Linked DNA regions of Homo sapiens. The protein of the gene in region 3 purifies or fractionates together with the protein of the main gene of each other region. This does not show direct contact. Each region holds a gene or a part of one and is shown on either strand. Other genes may lie near its edges.

What was found.
Region 1: the proteins of SMARCA5 (region 3) and BPTF purify together in Homo sapiens (affinity purification with mass spectrometry; 4 studies listed by BioGRID and IntAct, with this or other methods). This does not show direct contact.
Region 2: the proteins of SMARCA5 (region 3) and HMGXB4 purify together in Homo sapiens (affinity purification with mass spectrometry; 3 studies listed by BioGRID and IntAct, with this or other methods). This does not show direct contact.
Region 4: the proteins of SMARCA5 (region 3) and SMC1A purify together in Homo sapiens (co-purification; 2 studies listed by BioGRID, with this or other methods). This does not show direct contact.

Annotation. Positions count from the first base shown.
Region 1 is NC_000017.11:67,940,476-67,947,502, forward strand, and holds part of BPTF (nucleosome-remodeling factor subunit BPTF), read left to right. Parts: coding exon 1-181; intron 182-3,674; coding exon 3,675-3,897; coding exon of another isoform or gene 3,898-4,009; intron 4,010-4,933; coding exon 4,934-5,850; intron 5,851-7,027. UniProt on the Homo sapiens protein: Regulatory subunit of the ATP-dependent NURF-1 and NURF-5 ISWI chromatin remodeling complexes, which form ordered nucleosome arrays on chromatin and facilitate access to DNA during DNA-templated processes such as DNA replication, transcription, and repair.
Region 2 is NC_000022.11:35,253,491-35,260,516, reverse strand, and holds the start of HMGXB4 (HMG domain-containing protein 4), read right to left. Parts: upstream 3,025-7,026; 5' UTR 2,960-3,024; intron 2,330-2,959; exon of another isoform or gene 1-2,329. UniProt on the Homo sapiens protein: Negatively regulates Wnt/beta-catenin signaling during development.
Region 3 is NC_000004.12:143,544,685-143,551,711, forward strand, and holds part of SMARCA5 (SWI/SNF-related matrix-associated actin-dependent regulator of chromatin subfamily A member 5), read left to right. Parts: intron 1-52; coding exon 53-163; intron 164-785; coding exon 786-899; intron 900-1,240; coding exon 1,241-1,363; intron 1,364-2,091; coding exon 2,092-2,224; intron 2,225-2,700; coding exon 2,701-2,819; intron 2,820-3,243; coding exon 3,244-3,456; intron 3,457-5,312; coding exon 5,313-5,420; intron 5,421-7,027. UniProt on the Homo sapiens protein: ATPase that possesses intrinsic ATP-dependent nucleosome-remodeling activity.
Region 4 is NC_000023.11:53,398,628-53,405,654, reverse strand, and holds part of SMC1A (structural maintenance of chromosomes protein 1A), read left to right. Parts: coding exon 1-162; intron 163-263; coding exon 264-410; intron 411-505; coding exon 506-643; intron 644-1,761; coding exon 1,762-1,878; intron 1,879-1,982; coding exon 1,983-2,089; intron 2,090-5,924; coding exon 5,925-6,066; intron 6,067-7,027. UniProt on the Homo sapiens protein: Involved in chromosome cohesion during cell cycle and in DNA repair. Central component of cohesin complex. The cohesin complex is required for the cohesion of sister chromatids after DNA replication.

The DNA.
Region 1 (7,027 bases), on a different chromosome or scaffold from region 3:
GCAGCCTGTCTCCACTGCAGTCTCCGCCCCTAACACGGTTTCCTCAACACCTGGGCAGAAAAGCTTAACTTCAGCAACGTCCACTTCAAATATACAGTCTTCAGCCTCACAACCCCCTCGCCCCCAACAAGGACAAGTGAAGCTCACCATGGCTCAACTTACTCAGTTAACACAGGGCCACGTAAGTAACATAAGCTTTATTTTAACTTTAGAGGTGATCTTATTTATTCTTGCGGTAAGTTTAAAAACATGAACTTATTTTGATACGTTTTTAAATGTGCTGATTTGAAGAAATGGTTGCTTCCTGGAGTCAAGCAGAAATACCTCTTAGACAGGATATAATAAACCCCAACTACTAGAGTAATCTTTAGACAGTGAGCTAAAACAGTGAGACAGATAACCCTTTTAAACACCAAAATTTTATTAGTTGGCTAATCTCCATGAGACAAATAAAATTTGAGTACATTAAGCTGCTTCCTTGCAAGACTCGATATTGTTAGCAAGTCTTCTAATATTGATTAATAAATTGAATGCAGCTCCCATCAAAATCCCAAGAGGTTTTGTTTTTAGTGAAACTTCACAAGCTGATACTGAAAGTTTATATGGAGGTACAAAGTATTAAGAATATCTGTACCTTTGAAGAACAGGATTATTTGCCCTATATATGATAACTTGATATCAAAACTTAGTATAGGCTGGGCATGGTGGCTTGCGCCTGTAATCCCAGCACTTTGGGAGGCCAGGGCGGGTGGATTGCTTGAGGTCAGGAGTCTGAGACCAGCCTGACCAACATGGTGAAATTCCATCTCTGCTAAAAGTACAAACAAATTAGCTGGGCGTGGTGGCATGCGCTTGTAATCACAGCTACTCAGGAGGCTGAGGAAGGAGAATTGCTTGAACCTGGGAGGCGGAGGTTGTAGTGAGCTGAGATTGCACCACTGCATTCCAGCCTGGGTGACAAAGCAAGACTTCATCTAAAAAAAACCAAAAAACTTAGTATATAATACTTCACTAATTAATATAGTGAGGTACAGACATAAGGAGAGGCAGATAGACCAACAGAACAGTAGAGAGTGCAGAACATGAACCCCATGTATGTGGACACTTGTTATATGACAAAGGTGACATTGCAGATCATTGAGGAAGAGATGACTTTTCAGTAAATGGTGCCAGGACAATTGAATATACATGGGAAACTGTGAAATTGGACCATTATTACCTCACTCTACATAAACTCAATTCCAGGAGGATGAAAGTCCTAACTGTGAAAGGTAAAACTATAATACCTTTAGAAGATAGAAGAATATCTTCATAGCTTTCCTAAACAGATAGAAAATGCTAACCATAAATGAAAAGATTTATAAATTCAACTACTTTAAAAATAAGAGTAAGAACCTCTGTTCATCAAACTCACTACAGAGAGAGTGAAGAAAATGAGAAAAGAACCAACCAAGGACTATTACATATCCAGAATATATAAAGAATTACTACAAATCAAGAAAGAAAAAAATCCAGATAGATCAATAGGAAAAAAGACAAACAGGCAAGGTGCGGTGGCTCACACCTGTAATCCCAGCACTTTGGGGGGCCAAGGTTTTGGGAGGCCAAGCCAGGTGGATCACTTGAGGTCAGGAGTTTCAGACCAGCCTGGCCAACATGGGGAAACCCCGTTTCTACTAAAAATACAAAAATTAGTCAGGCGTGGTGGTGTACGCCTGTAATCCCAGCTGCTTGGGAGGCTGAGGCAGGAGAATTGCTTGAACCCAAGAAGCAGAGGTTGCAGCGAGCCAAGATATACCACTGCACTCCAACCTAGGCAACAGACTCCGTCTCAAAAAAAAGAAAAACAAAAAAAAAAGGACAAACCAACATTATGAGGAAAGAAGAAATCTAAATGTCCCAAATTCCAAAAAACTGCTGAACTTTATTAATAATGAGAGAAGTACATATTAAAACCATATGCTTAAGAGATTGGTACAAATTTAAATGTCCAACAAAACCAAGAGTTAGCAAAGACATAGAGCAGAAAGAATTCTCATGCACAGCTGGTGGGCCTATCAGTCGGTTCAGCCATTTTGGAAACTTCCTGGACATGGTCTGGTAAAGTCAAAGCTGTGTATGCCCAAGGTCCCAGTATACCTTCTAGGTATATCCCTAGAGAAGTTGTTGGCCATGTGAGCACCAGAATACATGGCATAAATATTGGTAGCAGCATTGTTCATAAGAATCAAAAACTAAGAACAACTCAGGTGTCTATCAAAATCAGTTAGCTAAGTAAATTGTAGTATATTCCTACAGCAATAAAAATGAATAGACTTCAGCCACACAGAACTATGCAGATGATTCTCACAAATATATAATGGTAAGCTAAAGAAGCAAGTAGCTGCCAAAAAAAATACATGTTATAATTTCATTTGTATAAGATTCAGAAATAGGCAAAACTAAGCTATTTTGTGTAGGGATACAGGGCTGCTGCATTGCCTGCCTGGAGGGGGCACTATTCCCATTGTATTCTTTGTGAATATTGCTCCTGAGTTTGTGAACCTCAGTGGCCTTATATATACCTAAGATACATACCGAAGTAGTAATGAAATACAGTGTTATCATCAAAGTGAGGATAGTGCTTACCTCTAGGGGAGAGGGAGGGAATTGAAATCCGGGTGAGTCATATGGGGACTTCTAGGACACTGGCAATGGTGACCACAGTGGCGGTTTTATAGATGTTTACTTTATAATTTTTAAATTATACTTGGTGTTTTGTGCATTTTGTGCATAAAAAATGTATTTTAGAAAAGCAAGAGTAAATAAGTTTTGAGGGATTCACATGTATATGGAGCTTACTTAGTACATGGACTTTGCGCCATCAGTTTTGGTCATTGGGAGTTTAGGGGATGGTTTTTACTTTTGCTTTCCAGTTCTCCAGCATGTTCCTGGTATTCAGGGTTTCTAGTTGAATTACAGTTCTGGACAGAAGAGAGAGCGCCTAGAGAATTTTAAATTTCTGGACCCCTTTTTGGTAACTGCTCAGACCTTAGTGATCCTCCTTACTTGGTGTTTGCATTACATATCTAAAACCCTAAGCTTTTTACAGTTTAGCACACACACACCCCATAGGTAATTTGGCACGTATTGAAAGACAAAATTCAGGAGATCTAGGTTCCTTCTTTTATCTCACCTTTAAGTTGGCCAGGGTACTTGACCTTTCTAACCTGAGTTTCTTAGTTGGGAATCAGAAGAATATTTTCTCTGCCTACCCCATAAAGTCACAAGTCCATTGTGAGAATCAAATGAGGCAGTATCTATGAAGATGCTTTTGAAATTGTAAAATATGAATATAAGATTATTTAAAATCAGAATTTTGTGGGGACTTTAGTTATTCAATACCTTTATTTTATAGATTGGGAAACTTGGATCTGGAGGAACAGTGTTGCTTGTGGACAGATAACTGGCTGACCATTGGGGGAGCTTGAACTGGAACTCTGGATTGTTGATGTTTTTCCTACTAAGCAACATAAATATTCTTACTTTAGCTTATCTAAATTCCTGCTGGTGACATTCAAATATGTATTTTCATTATATTAAAAGATAATTACACATAAAAATGATTTAATAAAAATGATATACATACAGATTGATGCTTTGAACACTGTTTACATGTTGTGTTTTTTCCACAGGGTGGCAATCAAGGTTTGACAGTAGTAATTCAAGGACAAGGTCAAACTACTGGACAGTTGCAGTTGATACCTCAAGGGGTGACTGTACTCCCAGGCCCAGGCCAGCAGCTAATGCAAGCTGCAATGCCAAATGGTACTGTTCAGCGATTCCTCTTTACCCCATTGGCAACAACAGCCACCACAGCCAGCACCACCACCACCACTGTTTCCACGACAGCAGCAGGTAGAGCTGTGGGTTTATCGGAAATGTCGGATGTTACTACTACACGTGGCTGGGCTAACAGAGGCCAACAGGAGAACCAGTATTTACCTTTGGAAGGATATGCCTCAAGCCAGTGACCTCAACAGTTGACATAGTCAGCCTCACAACGTCTCGAAGCTTTTGTACCCTATTCTTACAGACTCCCTGTTACCACCACCCTCTCCCTCCTATTAAAAAAGAGAGAGAGAGAAAGGGGGCAAAAATAATGGTTATCTTGGTAACTATGCCCACACTTACTCCTTGCTAAGCCTTGTAGGTGCTGATTCAGTCATGGAGGTGATCTCAGGGAGGGTGGGTAAATCCAGTTCATGACCTCAGATTGAGAGTGGGTCCAGAACCACTTTGTTGACCTTCTGCTGCAAGTCATTGTAACTAACTACCACCACATCATGGGAGAAAAGTGAAGCGTGGCAATTAGCCTGGGCCAGATGACCCAGCTGATTTCCAGAGGCTGCAACTTACTTTGGAAACCAGCCCTCTAGAGTTAGGAGAGTGTACAGGGGACAGCCAAGAAGCAGGGCCCAGGCTTCCCAGTTTCAGAGCGTCCTGCCCTAAGCGTGTCCAAATGGAGCATTTCAAAGGCATAGACCTTCTGTACCAAAATACAAAATTCTCAACTTTATTTACTTTATTTATTTTTTCGAGACAGGGTCTTGCTCTGTCGCCCAGGCTGAAGCGAAGTAGCACCATTACTGCTTACTGTAGCCTTGAACTCCTGGACGCAAGCAATCCTCCCACCTCAGCCTCCCACGTAGCTTGGACCATAGCCATGCTCCACTATGCTCAGATAATTTTTTATTTTTTTTGTTTTTGTGTAGAGACGGGGTCTCACTATGTTGCTCAAACGATCCTCCCACCTCAACGTCCCAAGGTGCACAGGTGTGAGCCACCACGCCTGGCCAGAATTCTCAACTTCAGAAGATTTCCTTCAGATTCTTCTTTAACCACAGTTTTATGTTCCAGAGTAATAGAAATGGTTCATCTTTCCTTTTTACAGGTACAGGTGAACAAAGGCAGAGTAAACTGTCACCCCAGATGCAGGTACATCAAGACAAAACCCTGCCACCAGCTCAGTCATCAAGTGTGGGTCCAGCAGAAGCCCAGCCACAGACTGCTCAGCCTTCAGCTCAGCCCCAGCCCCAAACCCAGCCCCAGTCCCCAGCTCAGCCTGAAGTTCAGACTCAGCCTGAAGTTCAGACCCAAACAACTGTTTCATCCCATGTCCCTTCTGAAGCACAACCCACCCACGCACAGTCATCCAAGCCCCAAGTTGCAGCACAGTCTCAGCCTCAAAGTAATGTCCAAGGACAGTCTCCTGTTCGTGTCCAAAGTCCATCACAGACTCGAATACGTCCATCAACTCCATCCCAACTGTCTCCTGGACAACAATCCCAGGTTCAGACTACAACCTCACAACCGATTCCAATTCAACCACATACATCTCTTCAGATACCTTCCCAAGGCCAGCCACAGTCACAACCCCAGGTACAGTCTTCAACTCAAACTCTTTCATCAGGACAAACTTTAAATCAAGTTACTGTTTCATCCCCATCCCGTCCTCAGCTACAAATACAGCAGCCACAGCCCCAAGTCATTGCTGTGCCTCAGCTGCAACAACAAGTCCAGGTTCTCTCTCAGATCCAGTCACAGGTTGTGGCTCAGATACAGGCTCAGCAAAGTGGTGTGCCCCAGCAAATCAAACTCCAGTTACCTATCCAAATTCAGCAAAGCAGTGCTGTGCAGACTCACCAGATTCAGAATGTGGTTACAGTGCAGGCAGCCAGTGTGCAAGAGCAGTTGCAAAGGGTTCAGCAACTCAGGGATCAGCAGCAAAAGAAGAAACAGCAACAGATAGAAATTAAGCGTGAACACACCCTCCAAGCTTCTAATCAAAGTGAAATCATTCAGAAACAGGTAAAGTTATTAAGTAAAAGCAGCATGTTCAGTAGCTTGAATTATTGTGCTGTGCAGTAGAATTAGTGTTTGGTTGTGTTAGGTTTCCTAAATGAGACAAAGTCATTAATGTTTAAATTTAGAAGAAACACTGAATTGACCAAAAAAAATACTGAATGACTACTGTGGTGTGGAACACTTCGTTAGATACATATAATATATAGTCAGTGCTTATTAGGAATGACCTGTATTTTGGGAGGACTAAGATGGGAAGAATGGAGTTATGAGCTTTAATCTTTAATATAAAACTTGAGGGTTTAACTAAGTTTTAAAGCCACTTCAGACATTATAGCAATTCCTTTAAAGTTATTGAAAGTTGTCATTCCTTAGTTTGCATGTAGACTATGCAAATTATAGACAGATTAAACTCATTTGCATTTCTAGCCACACCTTTGTAAAAAAGTTTTTGAAAACATATTATTTCATAGCTTAAGTAAAAAGTGGCATCATCCAGCAACATCTTGCAATGGCACATTAGTGAAATAAAGCAATTTAGATGAGTTAGAATTAGTCTACTAAAGTGAAGTCACACATATAACATCTGATAACATTACTGGCAGAAACCATCTTTTCATCTACCTATAGCTTGCTTCGCTCAGCACTAGGCAGGAGTTTGAATGTGGATTTTAAGTGTTACCAAGTTGTGAGACCTTCATTCAGTTCCTAGGTCTCCCATTCACAGTCCGTGAAACTCACTTATCCCTCCTTAGCTATAGCCTCTTAAAACCCTTCTCTTTCCAGCCACATGAGATTATTGCAATGATTAAATGAGGTCATAAATGTAGAAGCACTTTTTACACAGCGAAGTTATTTTAAAGATGTAGTATTCTTATGAAAATGACGGTCATATATATTATATTTAAATGTATTATTACCCAGCTTTACTGTGTATCTATAAACTGAGAATTACTACACTGTCTGTCTATCCGCTAATCTTTGTATAGGGGAGACGAGGGACAGTTCTTTAAAATTCATTCCTGGGAAGAAAGCATAATGTTAAAAATACGGCCTTTGGAGAAGGATAGCCAGGTTAAAATTTCAGCTGTATTACTTACTGTTTGTCAAACAAGGTGGTTAATTTCTTTATGTCTCAGTATCTTGTTTATAAAATTATTGCTATGGTTCAGTGTTGTTGTAA
Region 2 (7,026 bases), on a different chromosome or scaffold from region 3:
TTTCCATGTTCCAGCATTTAAGGATGACACTTTCTCAGCGGAAACTACTGTCCTCCCCTTTCCACCCAAGTGGTGCTGACTCCAAAAGGGGTGCAGGTAGAAGGGAAATACAGGGAATTATATCAATTTATTTGAAAACAGCATATCCTCTCAATGGCACTAAAATACTGAGTTTATAAGAAAAATATATAGATTATATAGATTTTCATAGGCTGATAATGCCAAGAACCAATGGAGACCTCAAATTAAACACTTTCTGTGCATGAATTTTGGCAAAGAATATTTCAGAAATAATGGCAAAAAACTTAAATATTCAATGTCATAAATACAGTCATCAGTGTTTTGTCAACAACAAAATGCACTTGTATATGTAAGCAAAGGCTGGTCCTGAGACTTATAACAGGCCTTCCCTTTGGTAACATCAAAATCAACATAAAACAGAGTTGGGCAACCTAACAGAATAGAAATAAGTACCTCTGAAGACAGAAAGAAAGAAAGATGACTGTATCGTGGTCTCGTTACTGGCTGCTTTAAAAAACTAGTGGATTAAAAAGTTGTGAGAGGGAATAGAAAATTAGGAACTGCTTCTCAGAGGCACAGGCCAACCAAGAAAATGTGGTGTTGGCATTACATATATTAGGTCTACCACTGTTTAAATTTTCTTAAAAACACTGAAGAGCATTTTATAAATTACTGGATTAAATAACCTGAAGAAAAAAGAAGGAATGAGGCCTGAAGACACGTCCAATTCACTGAAGAACTGGGGCAGCCAAGAGCTTGAAAAACTAAAATTAAACACAACGGACTGTATCAGCCACAGCTTGGGCAGACCGATGGGCCCTGAATTTCTACGTTCTTTAAAATCAGGATATTATTGCAGCTCAGGGTTTAGTTTTGGAAAGATACCAGATAAATCTCAAGCAACAGTGTGAAAGAAAGGCAGAGTTCAGGCAACATTTATATAAGATCAGATGAACCCCTGATATTCCTTCCAGGTCTTGAATACAATCTGTGAAAATTCAGAGTTCAGGGGTAGAGAGTAGATTGTGAGGATTAATGAAAATGAATATTAGGTTTGATTTTCACATTAGAAAAGGGAGGTCATAATTACATTAAATGTTGGCAAATGTGAAACAGGTGTTAAAACCCAGTCTCAATTCAATAATTTGGGAGTTTATAAAATTCAATGTTGTCAACTCCAAGAGGCAAGAATAATTTTGTTTGTCTCAGTGTGCTAAGATATGACAACATAAGTAAAAGTTCACTATTTCATACTGTTGATACAAGTAAAAAACTGGTACCATAAAAATGTATACTTATGAAATGCACAAATTGTTAAATAGCTCTTCGGGGACTTTTCTTCAGGATATGAAAAAGGAGGGGGCAGAGTTGCTCTTTCCCTGGTAGATAAGCATACAAGTTATGTTCAGGCATAGGCCTTTGGGATGACCAAAGTAATCAGGAGGAAAAAGTCCTCAGATATAGCACTTTGTCATTTTGAAACTTCAAATTACAGTTAAAAAACAGGTTTCAGACTTTTTTTGAGGTAACTTGAGCTCCTGCAATCAACAACCTTCTTCACCCCATAATGTAAATGAGTATCGAAAAAAAGGAAACAAAGTAAGCCCCGTCACACGGACAGTAAGAGAAATTCTGAACTCCAGGTCTGTTCCAGGATGAGAGCCATGTCCAAGATTCTGCATTCTCTTCTTCCAACCACTCCTTTCAAGAACTCAAAATGCCAGTCAGTGCAGGTAAAGGAAGATGCACATCCGCCGGTTGCCAATTTCTGAAATTTTCTTGTTACTTCTACGATACAGACAAGTGATGCCTTCTCAACTTCGTCCAGGTTTCTTCCAATCTCCGAACACGGTGACTCCGAATCCTCTTGCCACTCCCTTCTCCAGGGACCTACCTAGGCAGCACTCCCAGCCCCTGCCAGCTCTGGAAGCTGCAGAGATCCCGACAGTCGGGGATGGGGATTGAATCCTCTCATTGCAGTGCAATTAAGCGGAACCACGACCACCGCACAGATTGGCTGACAACACACATTCCATAAGACCAGCAATCGAATTTTGAGAAGCCTTGTCCAATCAACAGGCTTTATTTGGGATTCAGTTTTTTACTTTGTTCTATTAGGAGGAAATATAATCAGCCACCAGCTTAGCCCTCCAAAAGAGGGGACAGAGATGTTTCTCCGCTTTTGCACGCTATAAAGTGAATCTACAAGTAGTAGTTGGTGGAGGGAAAATGGGCCTGCATGGAGAAGGCGCCCACCACGAAGGCACGGCCAAGCCGGGTTGCACGCAAGAAACACACAAAATACCAGGTGATTTACACAAACAGCCCCCAGGACCACCATTTTTGTGGTCCCCAAGGCAAACCAGTGGGATTCTCCCGGCAGTTTTGCGGCAACAGCTAGCTCAACAAAGCTCTGTGAAGAGGAAAAGAAGAAAGCTCCTCGTACTTTCTCCTGCCAGCCGCAGCCCCAGCCCTCCCGTGGCCGCGGCCACGAGCCCTTTCCCCCTGACAGCCCGAGGGACCCCCGCATCGCGGGTTCCGAGCCGCACAGCTCGACCTGAACCCGGGTTCCCGCGTCTCCGGCGGCCTCACGGCGCCCCCGAGGGCGGAGACGGCCCGGGCAGGGGGAGGGGCGGCCCGGGTCCGCAGGCCCCCGGGGCGGCCGCACGCCCCCTCCCGGCCCCGCAGCTTTCCCGCCTTCCCCGTTTGAACAGCTCCCGCCCGCCCTCCTCCTTCTGCCCGCTCCAGCCCCTTCCTGGGGGCGGCTGCGGCCGCTACTCCAGTCCCCGGCTCGGCCCCTGGGCTAGGCCGCGAAGGGCCTGGGGCACCCCAGAGGTGATGTCGCGGGCCCAGGGCGGCGGGTGGCGACGGGGCGGGGCTGCTGCCGCCTCAGGGTGGGGGCCCAGCCCGGTCTCCTGGGGTCTCCGCTCGCCGCTACCTTCACTCGGCTCGCCCGGATCCCGCCTCAACGCCGCCGATCGCCGCCATCTTGGAGAAGGAGAGAAAAGCGCGAGCGGCCAGGGAGCCTCAGTCGAGCCCAGAGCGCAGACTCGGGCTCCGGAGGGGGAATCCCGCTCGACCAAGAGCGCCGAGCGCATCGAATAAAACTCGGAGCCTGCTGAGCGCGGGAGCTGGCACTTATTTATTGAGAATTTGCTATGTCCCAGCCTTGCCCTAGAAGCTTACAAACATTATTTCACTTAATCCTCACTGTATTCCTGTCGCATTTTGCAGAAGAGAACCAGGCTGAGAGAAGTTAAGTGACGTGCCCAAGGATACACAGGTAGTTGGAATGTGAGACCGAGTATTACTCCAAGTCTTCTGATTCTGAATGCAGTGCTTTCCCCAAAATACTATGCTGTTTCTTTCAAGATATTGTTATACAGCAGTTCTCCTCTTTGCAACACCTAGATCTATGCAGATTAATAGCAGTGTGCTTATTTGGACTTCAGCATCTACATTTGAACATTTGGCATATTAGGGGTGAGGTGAAGAACTTATCTTTGTAACAATGTACAGTAAAATAATTTGCATGGCGAATCATCTACATTTTTTAGTTAGAAACAGTCTTCAGAGAGAGAGAGGAAGAGATGTCATATACAGGCGAGAACACAATTTTTCTGATTTGCCATTGAGAACTTCGACCAATGAGTAGAAATTACAGTGTATAGAACTTGGTTTGATATGAAGAAGAACGCCAGGGGCGGTGGCTCACGCCTGTAATCCCAGCACTTTGGGAGGCTGAGGTGGGTGGATCACCTGAGGTCAGGAGTTCGAGACCAGCCTGACCAATGTGGTGAAACCCCGTCTCTACTAAAAATACAAAAAATTAGCCAGGCGTGGTGGCGCGTGCCTGTAATCCCAGCTACTTAGGAGGCTGAGGCAGGAGAATCGCTTGAACCCGGGAGGCGGAGATTGCAGTGAGCCGAGATTGCGCCACTGCACTCCAGCCTGGGGGACAGAGTGAGACTCCATCTCAAAAAATATATATATATATGAAGAATAACTTATTTTTCTAGTACAGTTCAGTAGTACAATGGGCTTCCTTGTGAGTAGTGAGCTCCCTCCCACTGGAGGAGCGCTCAAGCAGAAGCTGGTGTTACTGTAAAGCAGAGAAGTTAGAGATGTAGATTGGCTTCTAGAGTTGTGAACCCCATGCAACGTAAAATCATGTGTGCAGTGTGTGTTTTCCTAGGGCCCAGGCCCCATAAAAAATTAAGAACCTCTGTCCTAGTGTATTTTCCATTGCAGAGTTGGGTGAGTGCTTGAAGACGAGGTAGTCATGAGACCAATAAAAGCAAGGTGATTTGTCTGAGACCACACTCTAATCAGTGATCAGATAAAGATGAAAAGCCAGATTGTTAGACTCTGGTTCAGTGCTCTTTTTGCTATATCATGCTCTCTCCCCCTCTGCACTGAGTAGAAGATTGATTCTGTTTCTTACAACTGTGAGATGCTGAGATGTTAAAACACCTGAGATAAAGTTGCTGAAATCATTTGCAAAATGTAACTGCAAATACTTAATAAAAGTAGCATGGCCTTTTTCTCCGCAGCTCCCATCCTACTCACCAAAAAGACAGGCAATGAGTTTCACCAAAAGGTGTTAGATTGCATTTCTGGGACACCCTGCCTGACGTTAGGCTTCCCTTTGAGGCATTTAAGAGCCCTAATGATGTATTTCCTTTTTGTTCTTCAGAGCCCTAAATCCATTGGTCAGGATGATTTCAGTTGTGACAGAAACCCATTTCCATGTGTTTCCCCAGAAGAGGGGAATTTATTGGCTCACATGATTGAAATTTCCAGTACCTGCAGACATGGTCACTTCCAGGGAGGTAACTCAAGCTGGTCCTTTGACGTGTCTGTGGTGCTCTCCTCTGTTAGCTTTATTCTCAGATTCAGGTGATGACTCCAGCAGCTCCAAGCTTCATCATCTTTCCTGCTAGCAGTGTCCCTGTGGAGGGAGGTTTTGTTTGTTTGTTTTGAGACAGGGTCTTTCTCTGTCACCCAGGCTGGAGTGCAGTGGCACGATCACAGCTCACTGCAGCTTCGACCCCCTGAGTTCAAGCAATCCTCCCACCTCAGCCCCCCAAGTAGCTGGGACCACAGGTGCATGCCACCATGCCCAGGTACTTTTTGTATTTTTTGTAGAGATGGGTTTTTTTTGTTGTTTTTTTTTTACCATGTTGCCCAGGCTGGTCTCAAGCTCCTGGACTCAAGCAATCCTCCTGCCTTGGCCTCCCAGAGTGCTGGGATTACAGATGTGAGCCACCATGCCTGGCCCTGGAAGGAGTTTCTTTTTCCCTTTTGCTTTGGCAAAAGTCATGGGATTGATTCTTATTGCCTGAATTAGATCATGTGTCCAGACAAAAAGCAATCACTATGAGTAAAGGTGTGGAGTCTGCTGCTGCTGCTGATTGGTTAAATTAGGTCATCTGCTTACCTCCAAAATTAGGTTGGGGTAGACACAAAGAAAATCAAGGGTTGCTGTCAGAAGGGTGAGTGCATGTTAGGTAGGCAAAAACAGTAGCTGTCCCCACACTCTACCACTAGCTTGGACCTAAAAGCCTTATGAGTCCTATTGGTCCCATTTCTTCTTTTAGTCCACCTGAAGATGGAGCATATCAAGTTCTTGCTCATTTTAAGCTCCTGGAGACCTGAAGTCAGATCTCTCCTCAGCCTACTCACTCAATCACAAAATGCTATTAACTTGCTCCCAGTCTTGGATCATTGCACTTCCATTTATTAAACAGATATTTATTGAAAACACAGCATGTGGCAGGTACTGTCTTAAGTGTTGGGAATAGAACAGTGAACAGAATTGAGAGTCCTTGGCCCCCAGGAGCTTACATTCCGGTTGGGTTGGGGGACACAAAATTAAGATATGAATACTACATTCAGTGATAATCAGAGGTGGAGAAAATAATGCCAGGTTGGCTACGAGAGTACCAGCAGGGGATGTGGGTAGGAACAGCTTGTTCTTTAAAACAGTAATCAGGGAGGCTTCTCTGTTGAGGTGCACACCGGAGCTAGCTCAGCCAGAAGTGGGTTGGTGGTGGGAGCCAGGAGATCATAGTTCCTTGAATGTATTCAAGTGCTTCCTCTGTACCTTGCTGGAAAAGTATTCTTTGCTGACTATCTTTCATAGTTCTCTTGCATTTTTGAAACTTGGAAAGACAGAAAAGAGGACCCTCTGGGCAGGCCTAGTCATGGTGGGGTTTGTGAATAAGAATGCCTTTTCCCATGGCAAGTGAGGATAGCATCTAGCATATGTGAAGAGGGGGCACTCCCTAAGTGTGGGGCAGTTCTCTGGTCCACCTGATCTAAGGAAAACTGCCTGGTGCCTGGCAGCAACAGGTGGGGCCTGTCAAATTGTGCTTGGTTTGGACATCTCTTTCTTCAGGCCACTTTTCTGTGCTCTTCTCTTTCCAGATGTGTTTTGAGCAGCGTCTTTGTCTTCGGTCTGATGGGAGGATGCCATCCTGGGTACATACATTAGGCCAGGGCCTTTTGCTAGAAGTGACAGGACCTAATTAAAACTACCTTAAGAGACAGGCAGAGGGACATACCACAGATTCTCAGTCTGTGTGTATGCCCTAAATTGCAAAATTAAAAAAATAAAGAGACCAGTAGAAAATATGTAACTCATGTAAAAAACAAAACAAAACAAAAACTACTCAGAGCCAGAGAGAAGCAGGCCCTCTGGACAGCTGGGTCCGGGGATTCAAATCCTTCCCTCTTAACTCTGTTCTCTCAGGCTGGCAGTCCCTAGGGGCCTGGAATCATGGCCACAGGTAGCCCAGGCTTACATCTTTATAGTCTCCTGACCAGAGAGGAAAGAGCATGTTCCCACATCAGCAACACACATACACACACACACACGCGCGCGCGCGCGCGCACAAAATCCAAGAGAAGAACTCCAATTGGCTGGGATGGGGTCATGTGATCATTCAGTATTGTGATAGTTCCTGGGATACCACAAAGTTGCAATAGGACATTAGTCCTTCT
Region 3 (7,027 bases):
TGTTACTGTGTATAATAAAAGTTGGTGATTTGAGTTGTTTCCCATGTGCTAGATTGCATTCACAGAGTGGATTGAACCACCTAAACGAGAAAGAAAAGCCAACTATGCCGTTGATGCATATTTCAGGGAAGCTCTTCGTGTTAGTGAACCTAAAGCACCCAAGGTGAGTTGACTGACACAGCATAAAAATATCTAAAAATTTTGAAAATGTAATTTTTTTCATATATTCTTGCAAAAAGATTGATAATTAGATTTTGTGTTTCTTTTTTTTTTTTTTTTTTGAGACAGAGTCTCACTCTGTTACCAGGAGTTCAGTGGTGCGATCTCAGCTCACTGCAACCTCCGCCTCCCGGGTTCAAGCAATTCTCCTGCCTCACCCTTCCGAGTAGCTGGGACTACAGGCACCCACCACCACCCCTGGCTAATTTTTGTAATTTTAGTAGTGATGGGGTTTCACCATGTTGGCCAGGATGGTCTTGATCTCTTGACCTCATGATCCGCCCACCTTGGTCTCCCAAAGTATTGGGATTACAGGCGTGAGCCACTGCCTCTTTCCTACATTTTGCATTTCTTTAGAGTGTACTCTCTTCTGTTTTTAGTTAACATTTTTCAAAAATTAATTTTGAATCTGTGCATTTAAAATTAAGATATAAATTCAGTTTTATTGAAAGATGCATTCAGTTGCTTGCAGAATTGGCTGTTGTGGTTTATGAAGTGAGGACTAAGGATACATTTAAAATGAAATTTCTTTTTTATGGATAACACTTATTTTTGTTTTTCTTTAGGCTCCTCGACCTCCAAAACAACCCAATGTTCAGGATTTCCAGTTCTTTCCTCCACGTTTATTTGAATTACTGGAAAAAGAAATTCTGTTTTACAGAAAAACTATTGGGTACAAGGTAATTGAAATTATCTGCCTTTCTGTTCATTCCTATCCAGAAATTATGGAAGGTATAAACATTAGTTATAAATATTTATCTAATTTGGACCTAGTGTGAAACAATACTGCTTTAGCCTAGTCTAGTTGTATGTATGAAATACATAAACTTGGGTCTGTTTTTCTTTAACAAGAAAAAATAAGACTTCATGACCAATCTGGTTTGTTTTTAACATAATACATGCAATGTATCAGTATATTTTCTTTCCTGGTTGAATTGAAACTTGTGAAATGTCAGTTAGTTGGTTCATCACATGCTCTTTAAAATTTACTGATTTGATGGCATAGAAAAATATCTTTTAGGTACCTCGAAATCCTGAGCTGCCTAATGCAGCACAGGCACAAAAAGAAGAACAGCTTAAAATTGATGAAGCTGAATCCCTTAATGATGAAGAGTTAGAGGAAAAAGAGAAGCTTCTAACACAGGTATAGCCTTTAATCAGTACAAACTTTAGTAACAGTTTGTTGTAAAGGACTGTGTTAGGTTATGTTGGGGCATAAAAATAAATACAAGTTTCTGCTTTTAAAGATGGAATAATTGGAGACAATAAAGTATGGGCATGTGGATAAATGCTCCATCTGATTGTCACTAGTTGAGGTAGTTGAGAAGACTACAGATTTTATTACTCTGGCTCGGTAGAGTGGGTATCTTTTTTATCACCTTACTTTGAATGTTCCCGTCTTTCCTATGAATTTTCCACATTGCTACCCAGTCACCATTTTCAACTATAAATCTTGGCTTGGTTATTTTTTAAACATCCTTTGGTGTTCATCAAGGTCTTTCAGAATCTGGCCTTTGACTTACCTTTAAAGCTTCATTTTCCTTCCATTTTTCTACTTGCTCATATTTTTGCCCTTTATGTTATTCACTCTTTCTGGCCAACTGCTAGTAATCCTTCAAAGCTCAGTGAAACTGTCACCTTTTCATACAGTATTCCTTACTCTCAGCCACTCATATTTAATTGCTTGGGTATTTGAGCAATATATAATGTGTTGTCAAAAGTGTATATTTATGTACACGAAAAGTTACCACTCTAAAAGAACTTAATAAACTAGTGAAAATTTGTTTTTGTAATATTTAGAAGGTTTGCTAATAGCATGTTTTCCAAGTTTAATGTGCTGTGATTAAATATTTTGTTTCTGTTCCTGTGAAGGGATTTACCAATTGGAATAAGAGAGATTTTAACCAGTTTATCAAAGCTAATGAGAAGTGGGGTCGTGATGATATTGAAAATATAGCAAGAGAAGTAGAAGGCAAAACTCCAGAAGAAGTCATTGAATATTCAGGTAATTCTTTTAAGCAGGCTGTTGGAGTTTAGTAAGAGCTGTTGGAAGGTTCTTGTTTTCTTATTCTGAATTATGTTGTGATTAGCTAATTTTGTCACAGTGTAGTTAGTACCTTCTTCATTATTTTTTACAAATTAGAAAATGTTCTGTTTCCAGAAATGGCGTAATGGTTTCCTTTTTAAAAATTTTTTAACCCTAGCTAACTCTAGCGACAGCAAAGAAAATCAGAATAAGTCACTGGATAATTGCCCTTGCATTTTTATCTTAATTTCTCTGCATAACTTCAAGTATTATGTGTTGTGTTTCCTGAAGTCAGTTGTATTATTAGGTTAACATGTGAGGGTATGCTGTGGTGAGTCTGCTTAGAATAGCAGAAATTTAAGAATTAGAAGATAAATAATCCAGTTGATCCCATTTTTTTTACATTAAAGAAATAAAAATATAAATGATTTGTTTACTTTGTCCAACTTTTACAGCTGTGTTTTGGGAAAGGTGCAACGAGCTCCAGGACATAGAGAAGATTATGGCTCAGATTGAAAGGGGAGAGGCGAGAATTCAAAGAAGAATAAGCATCAAGAAAGCACTTGACACAAAGGTAATTTGCTTGTTAATAAGTTAGGTAGTTAATAAAATAACTCCTAGCTGTGAGTATGAGAGAGTGACTTTTTATAAAGGAAAAGAAGTAAGGGTTTACAATTTAAAATTTCTTCAGAGTAGCATTCAAACATGGTATTGTCAGCAGAATTTACCTATACACTAGACTGATAGATCTGAGTCAAAGACACTAAGATTAGCTTTTTACTAAGTAGAATCAGGAAGTCTTAGTCTGTATTTCTCTTTATAATAATAAAGACTATAAAGGTCTTTCGGGACAAAGATTATATAAAGCAATTGAAGTGCTCTAGATAGAAAATTCTGATTTGAAATGCAACATTTTAGCTAATTATACTAAAGCTGAGTTTGAAATACAGATTATATAGGATTTGTATTTTATATAATATAAAATCTGACTTTCATAGATTGGACGGTACAAAGCACCTTTTCATCAGCTGAGAATATCATATGGTACTAACAAAGGAAAAAACTATACTGAAGAAGAAGATCGTTTTCTGATTTGTATGCTTCACAAACTTGGATTTGACAAAGAAAATGTTTATGATGAATTGCGACAGTGTATTCGCAACTCTCCTCAGTTCAGATTTGACTGGTTTCTTAAGTCCAGAACTGCAATGGTGAGTGCTCAGGGCTTTTTTGTGTAATGTAGCAGAGTTCAGAGTAAGTGTCATCTTTGGTATTCTTTAAGGTGACTTTAAAAAAATCTATGAAGTAGACTTTTGTTACAATATTGTTAGTATCATAAAACCTAATACCAGGGATAGCTTACAAGTTTATTGGTCCTATCCTTTAGTATCTTACGTCTTTAAATATCACTATATGATAAGACTAGCTTTTCAAGTTCTAAGTGGGAGGAAGTATCAGTTTCAACTTCTGAGTGTTACGACTTTTTGGTTTTTCAAATGAACATATTTCTATAAAGAAAAATGGTCCTTGCATTCAAGCATCTGCACATCAGAATCAGCATTCTGATTTATTTAATATAAATCATCCAGAGTCTGGATTATTTTAAGATGGCTTATTATAGTGAAACACTACTTTTGCACTGATTTAGTGCTAGGTTTTGTTTTTATTCCCAATATCTGACTAACAGTTTCTGACCAAATAGCCCCATTTCTAATAACCTAAAATTTGAATTCAGAAAAGTTTAACTTTGATGGATTGCTCCTTTTCTTCCTTATTTCACCACCATTGAACTTTGAGCTTCAACTTGTTTTCTGCCAGATGAGGATAATGCTAATAAGTTCTTTAGTCTTAAGTTTGGGATATTCTGGGATAAGCAAAGTTTAAACATCTTTGTGTTTGTTTATAGTAAGATTTCTCTGTATATTTAAAGTAAAATGTCACTTTGTAAGACAGTGGATAGTAAGCAGTATTTTCATGTTTGACCACTGAAAATTTTTTTTCACTAGACATCACTGTTTGTGATACCCAAGTTTGGGAAATGTACTAAACTTAAATACATGAAGATACTTTGAAGATAAAACACTGTATAAATATATAATTAGAGAAAAGATCCAGTTGCTGAAAGCTTATTTCTTCTTAAGTGGGAACAATTTATAGAGTTAATAAAGAATAATTTTATAGTGATTGTAACAAGACAGTGCCATGTTAATTTAACTAGTACAGTACCGTAATTTAAAACTGTGTTACTTCTTAACATGTTCCATGTTAAGATGCACAAAAAATGATAATGTATTCTTCTATCTCTATATACTATTTCTAAGTCTTGTGTGGTGTATTCTATACAGTAGTATTTTAAAATTATTTTACTGTAGTTGTGTGTGTAGTAGTATCACTTACTATAAGAAAAAAATAATTTTGCTCTATAAGAAAGGGGGCTGCTACCCAGCAGCCGTCCGTGCAGATGGACTTCTGTTTCTTTCAGGGTTAACTGCTACTTCTATGTTATACTTTAAATCTTTTCTGGAGGCTGTATGTCCAGTTTGCCAGAGAGAGATGAGGTAGAACTCATCGTAGACTTCCATGGCTGGTTTTCCAAAATTGGGAAAGGTGCCATGTGATTGATTGACTACCATAATTCTAGTGATACTTTGAAGGGAAAGATTATACACACCTGTTAAAGTTCTTGTTGTTTTTGACCCTCACATATGTGCACTATTAATCTTTTTAAGTTTTGGATATAAGTAGCACAGTAGTTCTCAGACATACACACTAAGTAGCAGTATTGCATATGTTCATTTTTATTGCTTTAATTCCTAAGTGAAGGAAGAATTTTTGAAGAATACACAGTAGTTTGGCTTTAAAGATTGGAGTAAAAACATTATTTACAAATATCTTGCCTTTAATCTTCATAGCATGAATTGTATATGAAAATCAGTTGTTTTTTTTTTAAATCAGGGGTGTATTAGTGGTTTTATATATTATCCTATTAAAACATACCTTGTTTTAAAATTGAAATCATGAAACTTGTGGATGGAAAGTGCGTGTACCATGTTTGTTTATAATTTAGGAGCTCCAGAGGAGATGTAATACCTTAATTACTTTGATTGAAAGAGAAAACATGGAACTAGAAGAAAAGGAGAAGGCAGAGAAAAAGAAACGAGGACCAAAGCCTTCAGTAAGTATTCATGAATATGTAAATATGTGGATTATGTAAATTTCCCCTTTCTAAGTATTTAACACTGCTTGGCTGTCATTGATGTGTTAGTCCCTGTTGTGCACCCCTCCATTGCCTTTACTTTTTTTTTTTTTTTTTTTTCCTTAAGGGAGAACCCAAGCTCATAATTTGAGATTCTTCCACTTTCAAATTTAGGTAGTGGTATAATTTTTAATTTTTAGTTGTTATGAGTAAGTATGTATTTATAGGTTACATGAGATACTTTGATACAGGCATGCAATAAGTAATAAGGACATCAGGGTAAATGGGGTATTTATCACCTCCAGCATTTATCCCTGTTACAAACAGTTTAACTCTTAGTTATTTTAAAATGTATAATTAAATTATTTATTGCGGTAGTCACTGTGTTGGGCTATCAAATACTGGGTCTTAGTCTCTCTTTGTATTTATTTGTATCCATTAGCCAGCCCCACTTTCCCCCACCCCCACTGCCTTTCTCAGCCTCTGGTATCCATCCTTCTCTCTGTCTCCATGAGTTTAATTGTAGTTTTTAGCTCCCACAAATAAGTGAGAACATGCCAAGTTTGTCTTTCTGTGTCTGGCTTATTTCACTTAATAAACTCCAGTTCCATCCATGTTGCTGCAAATTACAGGGTCTCATTGCTTATGGTTGAATAGTATTCTATTGTGTATACATACCATGTTTTCTTTATCCATTTATCTGTTGATGGACACTTAGGTTGCTTCCAAATCATGGCTACTGTGAATAGTGCTGCAGTAAACATGGGAGTGCACATATCTCTTTGATATACTGACTTTCTTTTGGGTGTAAACCTAGGAGTAGGGTAACTCTTATCTGTAGTTTTTTGAGGAACCTTCAAACTGCTTCCACAGTGATTGTACTAATTTGCGTTCCCACCAAAAGTGTATGAGGGTTTCCTTTTCTCCACATTCTTGTCAGGATTTGTTATTGCCTGACTTTTGGATAAAAGCCATTTTATCTGGGATGAGATGTTATCTCATTGTAGTTTTGATTGCATTTCTCTGATGATCAGTGATACTGAACAGCTTTTAATATGCTTGTTTGCCATTTGTATGTCTTCCTTTGAGAATCATCTGTTCAGATCTTTTGCCTATTTTTAAATCGGACTGTTAGGATTTTTTTCAGTAGAGTTGTTTGAGCTCTTACATATTCTGGTTATTTATTAATCCTTTGACAAATGGGTAGTTTGCAAATATTTTCTTCCATTCTGTGGGATGTCTCTTCACTTTGCTGTTTCCTCTGCTGTGCAGAAGCTTTTTAACTTAATGTGATCCCATTTGTCCATTTTTGCTTTGGTTGCCTGTGGGGTATTATTCAAGAAATCTTTGCCCAGTCCAGTGTTCTGGAGAGTTTTCCCAATGTTTTCTTGTAGTTTCACAGTTTGAGGACTTAAAGTCTTTAATACATTTTGATTTGATTTTTTTATATAGTTAGGGATACAGGTCAAGTTTCATTCTTCTGTGTATGGATATCCAATTTTCCCATTACCATTTATTGAAGAGACTGTCCTTTCTCCAGTGTATGTTCTTGGTAGCTTTGTCAAAAATGAGTTCCATGTAGATGT
Region 4 (7,027 bases), on a different chromosome or scaffold from region 3:
AAACTCCGGGAGCTGAAGGGGGCCAAGCTAGTGATTGATGTGATTCGCTATGAGCCACCTCATATCAAAAAGGCCCTGCAGTATGCTTGTGGCAATGCCCTTGTCTGTGACAACGTGGAAGATGCCCGCCGCATTGCCTTTGGAGGCCACCAGCGCCACAAGGTGTGGATTCCCTTGCCCAGGCTGGAGCTGGACAGGCTCAGTACTGGAGATTCATTTGTTCAGCTTCTCCCCCTCTTCTCTCTTCCCCCTGCTGTGTGTAGACAGTGGCACTGGATGGAACCCTATTCCAGAAGTCAGGAGTGATCTCTGGTGGGGCCAGTGACCTGAAGGCCAAGGCACGGCGCTGGGATGAGAAAGCAGTAGACAAGTTGAAAGAGAAGAAGGAGCGCTTGACAGAGGAGCTGAAAGTAAGCCACAGGCAGTGCTGTTTTTAGCAGTGGGAGTCCTAAGCCTAGGTCAGCCACCACCTTACCACCTAGCCCTTCTTTCTTGTTCCCTTCAGGAGCAGATGAAGGCAAAACGGAAAGAGGCAGAGCTGCGTCAGGTGCAGTCTCAGGCCCATGGACTGCAGATGCGGCTCAAGTACTCCCAGAGTGACCTAGAACAGACCAAGACACGACATCTAGCCCTGAATCTGCAGGTGGGGCCTGGCCTTCAGCCCTGTTCTCCAAAGGCCATCCACACATTCCTGGCCTAGGTTTCTCTGGGGGTGGGGAACTTGTTTCACTTCCCCGTCTCCTCCCAGCCTGCCGCAGGGAGTCAGGTATAGCATAGAGTCAGACAGCCAGGGGTTCAGAGCTTGGCTCTGCCTTGAGTTTGACATTAGGCAAGTATTTTCACCTTTCAGTGTCAACCTTCACATCTTTATCTGTGAAATGCGAGTTAAGATGATACCTACTCGGCCGGGCACGGTGGATCACCTGTGGATCACCTGAGGTCAGGAGTTGGAGACCAGCCTGGCCAAACCTGTCTCTACTACAAATACAAAAAATTAGCTGGGCGTGGTGGCAGGCGCCTGTAATCCCAGCTACTTGGGAGGCTGAGGCAGGAGAATTGCTTGAACCCGGGAGGTGGAGGTTGCAGTGAGCCGAGATCATGCCATTGTACTCCAGCCTGGGTGACAGAGCGAGACTCTGTCTCAAAATAAATAAATGATACCTACTTTATAGGGTCATTATTGAATGAGTTAACATGTAAAGTGCTTAAGACTACCATGTGTTCAGTTTATGTTATGTGCTATTGTTAGCATAATTTATTCATTCAACAAATTTGAATTTTTGAAAGTGAGCTATGGGCATTTCAGTCCCTGCTTGTGGTAGTGGGCGGGGCGGGGGGGGACTGTTCTAGGTATATTAATGTGTTTTGTTTTTTTTACTGACTACTTCCCCAGACCGCCCTAGAGGTTTTATATGTAGTGTGTGTATTTATATATCTTTTTCTAAACTCAAAAAATCTAAACTGAATTCTGAAACAACTCTGCCCCCAGGGGTTGTAGATCAAAGACTGGGACCTATACCTAATGATGTTTACTGTGTCCCCAGCCCTGTGGATTGAAGCTGGCTGAACTGGATGCCAGGGAAGAAGCCATGTGATGGCTTCAGTGCAACATCATGGAGGCTTGACTAGGGCAGTAGTGCTAAGCCAGGTTCTCTCAGTTGTGGAGAGCTAGCCCTTCCTGACTGTGGGGCCAATGCAGTCAAGGTAGCTTTTTCTCCAAGGAGCCTGGTCTGCTTTGTCCTCTCAACCCATTGCCTGTAGGAAAAATCCAAGCTGGAGAGTGAGCTAGCCAACTTTGGGCCTCGCATTAATGATATCAAGAGGATCATTCAGAGCCGAGAGAGGGAAATGAAAGACTTGAAGGAGAAGATGAACCAGGTTGGTAGGGTGTGGGCCATGCCAGCGTGTGTGTCAGGGCAGGACTGGGACTGGAAGCAGGACAGACTAAAAGGGCCGATGCCCTCCCTGGCTTCTCTTCTCAGGTAGAGGATGAGGTGTTTGAAGAGTTTTGTCGGGAGATTGGTGTGCGCAACATCCGGGAGTTTGAGGAAGAAAAGGTGAAACGGCAGAATGAAATCGCCAAGAAGCGGTAGGTGGGAGGATTGGTAGAAGAGATTGGCATGCCCTTGAGCCTCTAGCTTGACATCCTTGGAAAACCAGATGCTGTCATAGGCAAGGGTCAGCTCTTAGAACTATGTGAGTTTATGTAGCTAGGCCTTAAAGAACAGAAATCAGGAGGGCAGTATGGCATAGTTATAGTGGTTAAGAGTGCCAACTCTAAACTTGATTTTCTGGATTCCTGGATTACAACCCCAGCTCCACAACTCGTTATCTTTGGCAGTGACTTGACTTCTGTAAGCTGCAATATCTGCAAAATGGTATAATGATACCTATCTCATGGCATTGTTGGGAGGATTAGGTGAAATAATTTTTTTTTTTTAAGATTACCTGTTTTACCTTTTTTTTTTTTTTTTTTTTTTTTTGACACAGGATCTCACTCTGTTTCCGAGACTGGAGTGCAGTGTCAATCTTGACCTTCCCAGGCTCAGGTGGTCCTCCCACCTCAGCCTCCTGAGTAGCTAGGACTACAGATGTTTGCCACCACGCCCGGCTAATTTTTCTTTTTTTGTTTTTTGTTGTTGTTGTTATTGTAGAGATGGGGTTTTGCCACATTGCCCAGGCTCGTCTTGATCTCCTGGGCTCAAGTGATCCTCCTGCCTCAGCCTCCCAAAGTGCTAGGATTATAGGTGTGAGCCATATTGCCGGCCCTTTTTTTTTTTTTTTTTGAGACAGAGTCTTGCTCTGTCGCCCAGGCTGGAGTGCAGTGGCATGATCTCGGCTCACTGCATTCTCCACCTTCCGGGCTCCCGTGTTCATGCAATTCTCCTGCCTTAGCCTCCTGAGTAGCTGGGACTATAAGTGCACGCCACCATGCCCGGCTAATTTTTCTTATTAGTAGAGATGGGGTTTCACCATGCTGGCCAGACTGATCTCGAACTCCTGACCTCGTGATCCACCCGCCTTGGCCTCCCAAAGTGCTGGGATTACAGGATGAGCCACCACGCCTGGCCCCAACCCCCGCCTGGCTTTTTTTTTTTTTTAACCTTTTTAAAAGGTATTTAGCAGCTTACATATCATCTACTAAGAGCAAGAAATAGTAGCTTTTGTTGTTATTATCATAATGGGCAACGTGAGGTGGAGGGAGGCGGGAGATGAAATTCTTGGTTGAAACAATAGTCAGAAGAAAATAATCTTCTCATTTTTCCTCACTTTAGTTGATTCATTCATTCAACAAACCTTTGTTGAGTACCTACCTTGTGCCAGGTTGTCTTGTGCTAGGTATTGGAAGGGGGACAAGGGAGATGGAGGTAAGACAGATGAACACAACACAGTCTTTGCTGAAGGAGGTCATCCCTTGTACCCTGGGCTTCAGTTAGCAGTTTAGCCCTTTGCCCATACAGTAAATATTCATTGCTGTCCTACTTCAAGCCAGTCTCAAGGGATATAGAATTGAATCAGACTGTATTTCTTTCCTCAGGAAACATATAGAGTACTGGGGGAAACATCAATTTGAGGACAGTGTGATCAATGGTGTAATTAAGGTAGATACAAAATACTGAAGAAATTTTCAAGGAACTGCAAATCAACAACAGGAAAAATAAAAAACAATGACAAGAAACCCAATGGAAATGTGGCTAAGTACTTATGATACCCAATGCAATGAAAAAAGTAAAAAAAAAAAAAGTGGCAAATAATATAGATAGGCTTTCATGGAAAGAGAAGTTCAAGTGGCTAATGACCATAGGAATTGAGGTCTAACCTCTTAATCAGAGAAATGCAAATTTAAAAGTCTGACAGTATTAGGTGGAAATCTATAGATGTCCTGTGTAGTATGTGAAAAAAATATATGTGTATATATATAATGTATATATATACACATATATAAAACCTATGGGTATATATCCCTGAGAGAGTCTTGCCATAGGGTCCCAAAGAGATACACATTCAGTGTCATTCATCTTGGCATAACTTGTAGTAGTGGGACATTGGTGGCAATGTAGATGGCCATTACTGGGGGAGCATAAGTCAAATGAATATATAGACTGGAATACTGTGTGGGAGTTCACAGCAAGAACTAGATTTGTGGGCAGTAATGGATAACTTATAAACCTGGTATTGACCAGAAAAAAGAATAAAATTTATAACACAGTAGATTTGTGTAAATTTTAGAACTAAGACATTTTACAAGGATATGCATTTTTAAGGAATGCATGTGTGTATGTCACTTTGTGGTGCATGTTCACAGTAGGGAAGGTAATGGGAATGGAAATTGGGGATTGAAACAAAGAGGACAAGGGAAGGGTCTTGCCCAGGCAGTGGTGATAAGTGTGTTATGAACTGTGGGATATGATTAACTTGCTTCTGCACCTAAAGTCTAAAAAGGGAGGAACCCAACAAAGTGTAATAGAAACTAGGAACCTGCTCAGAACCGTCAGGAAAGGTTTTACAAAACAGGGAGTGATGACTGGAGACCTGAAGAGTGAGTAGGATTTAGCCAGCCAGGCAGCGACAGAAAAAGTGAATTCCAAGCAGAGAGAACAGCATGCTTGGAAGTGTGAGAGAGCATGCCTTGTTCTGGATACTAAGTAGTTTTTAATGTCTGGAGCATAAAAGCAGGGTCAGGAAGAAGGTGGGGAGTGGTGGAGAGGTCAGCAGGGGCCGGATCACAGAGGCCTTTGTGAGTCATACTTAGGAGATTGGATATAAAATTGCATAGCTCAAAATTATAGAGTTAGTTATATTTCATTTGGATTATAGTGGCTAATAGGTTTAAGCTGCTAGCATGACATCTGGCAACATCTGTCACACCATATTGGGAGTTGGAGAGGGCAATTGGAAGTTAGTCCTGCCTGGCCTGCCAGTGCCTGTGTATGCTGGTTGCATACTCTTGAGTTTCTGAAGAGATGGAGAGGAGGACAATAGCAGGAATCCAGTATTTTCTCCATGTTTTTGTACTATCCAAGTTCTGCCCTTTAAGAGGTTCTGGGACCTTGGGGCAGAAGTTGGGATGCTGTAGTTGAAGCCCTTGGACAAAAGTAAGCTGAGTACAGTCAATATACCTGGTGATAATGGTAACTAAAATTGATTGAGTAGTTATCGTGGACTCGGTGTGGTTCTAAGGACTTTATACATATTAACTCATTTAAAAATCTCCCAATAACCCTGAGGTAGGTACTATTATTATGTTCATTTTGCAGATGGGGAAACAGGTCTGGAGAGTATAACCAACTTGCCTGAATGACATTACTAGTAAGTGGCAGAGTTGAGATGCCAGTCTTCTTAATCCACTACATTATGTTGCAGTGGTGGTATACTAGAAAGAGCCCGGGTTTTGGTGTTAAATCTGGGTTTCAGTCTCACATGTGCCATTTACTAGCTGTGTGGCCTTGGGCAAGGTCTTTTACCTCTTGGCCTAAGTTTTCCTCATTTGTAAAATTAGGATAATAATGCCTACTTGCAGAGCTGTTGATTAGAGGATTAGAGATAATGTATGTAAAGTACATAGAAGCCTAATAGGAATTACCATAGCTGGTAGAATCAGATGGACTCTTTTATGCCTCCTTGTAGGAACTTGGAGGGCGCTGGGGTCTTCATTGTTTAAAGGGGGATAAATAAGGTTTGGCCGAATCTTCCCTGCCTTATGCCATGTCCACAGGGCTAGGCTGAGGAACTTAGTTCTTCAGCTTCAGGGGACCGTTTTATGTGCATATGGATGGATGAAGCAAGTTGTGACTGAAAATCAGTAACTCTGGGTCCCTGAGCCCTGGGTCTAGTTTCCCTTTCTTCCCATAGTTGGATTTTGTACATTGGTTATCTCTGGCTGATGAGATTATGAGTGATTCTCCCCCCACCTTTATACACAGTTTGGAGTTTGAGAATCAGAAGACTCGCTTGGGCATTCAGTTGGATTTTGAAAAGAACCAACTGAAGGAGGACCAAGATAAAGTACACATGTGGGAGCAGACAGTGAAAAAAGATGAAAATGAGATAGAAAAGCTCAAAAAGGTAAGGAAGGAAAGAATTAAAAGACAGACTAATAACTGGGAGGAAAAATGGGAAGAAATACGACAGACAGAAGGATAATGTCCACAACTTAGAAATTTCTCATCTAAATCAATAAGAAAAATACCAAGACCTAAACGGGAAAAATGGATAAATGTCACAAACAGTTCAAGAAGACTTTCAAATAGTCCCTAAACACATACAAATAATTTAGTCTTACTAAAGAAATGCAAATTAAAGCAACAATTAGATACAATGTATTTTGTAACACATCGTGGAAAATGTAAAAACAGAAGACACAATGCTCAATACCAGCCATGGTATAGGAGACCAGTATTCTTTTTTTCTTTTTTTGAGATGGAGTCTTGCTCTGTTGCCCAGGCTGGAGTGCAGTGGCACTATCTTAGCTCACTGCAACCTCCGCCTCCCGGGTTCATGCCATTCTCCTGCCTCAGCCTCCCAAGCAGCTGGGACTACAGGTGCCTGCCACCACGCCCAGCTAATTTTTGTATTTTTAGTAGAGACGGGGTTTCACCATATTGGCCAGGCTGGTCTCGAACTCCTGACCTCATGATCCACCTGCCTCGGCCTCCCAAAGTGCTGGGATTACAAGCATGAGCCACCGTGCCTGGCCAGGAGACGAGTATTCTTATGTAATGTGGCACCATCCTTCAAGAAGCTTCACAATGCATTTATACTCTGTAACTCAGTAGTACCTGAGGAGATCATCCAAAATGCTGGCAAAGCTTTATGCAAACACTTTGATGTTTATAACAAGCATTATTTATAGTTCCAAATTGGAAACTACTCAGTGCCCCTTGGAAAGTGGGAATTTAGCAAATCATGCTACGTTTGTAACATTATTTATGTAGTGTCTTCAAACTTTAGTAATACACAGACCCTTTTTAAAGGAAAAATAGTCCCTAAGATTGCCAGTGTTGCCTTAAATCCGTGATGTTACTTA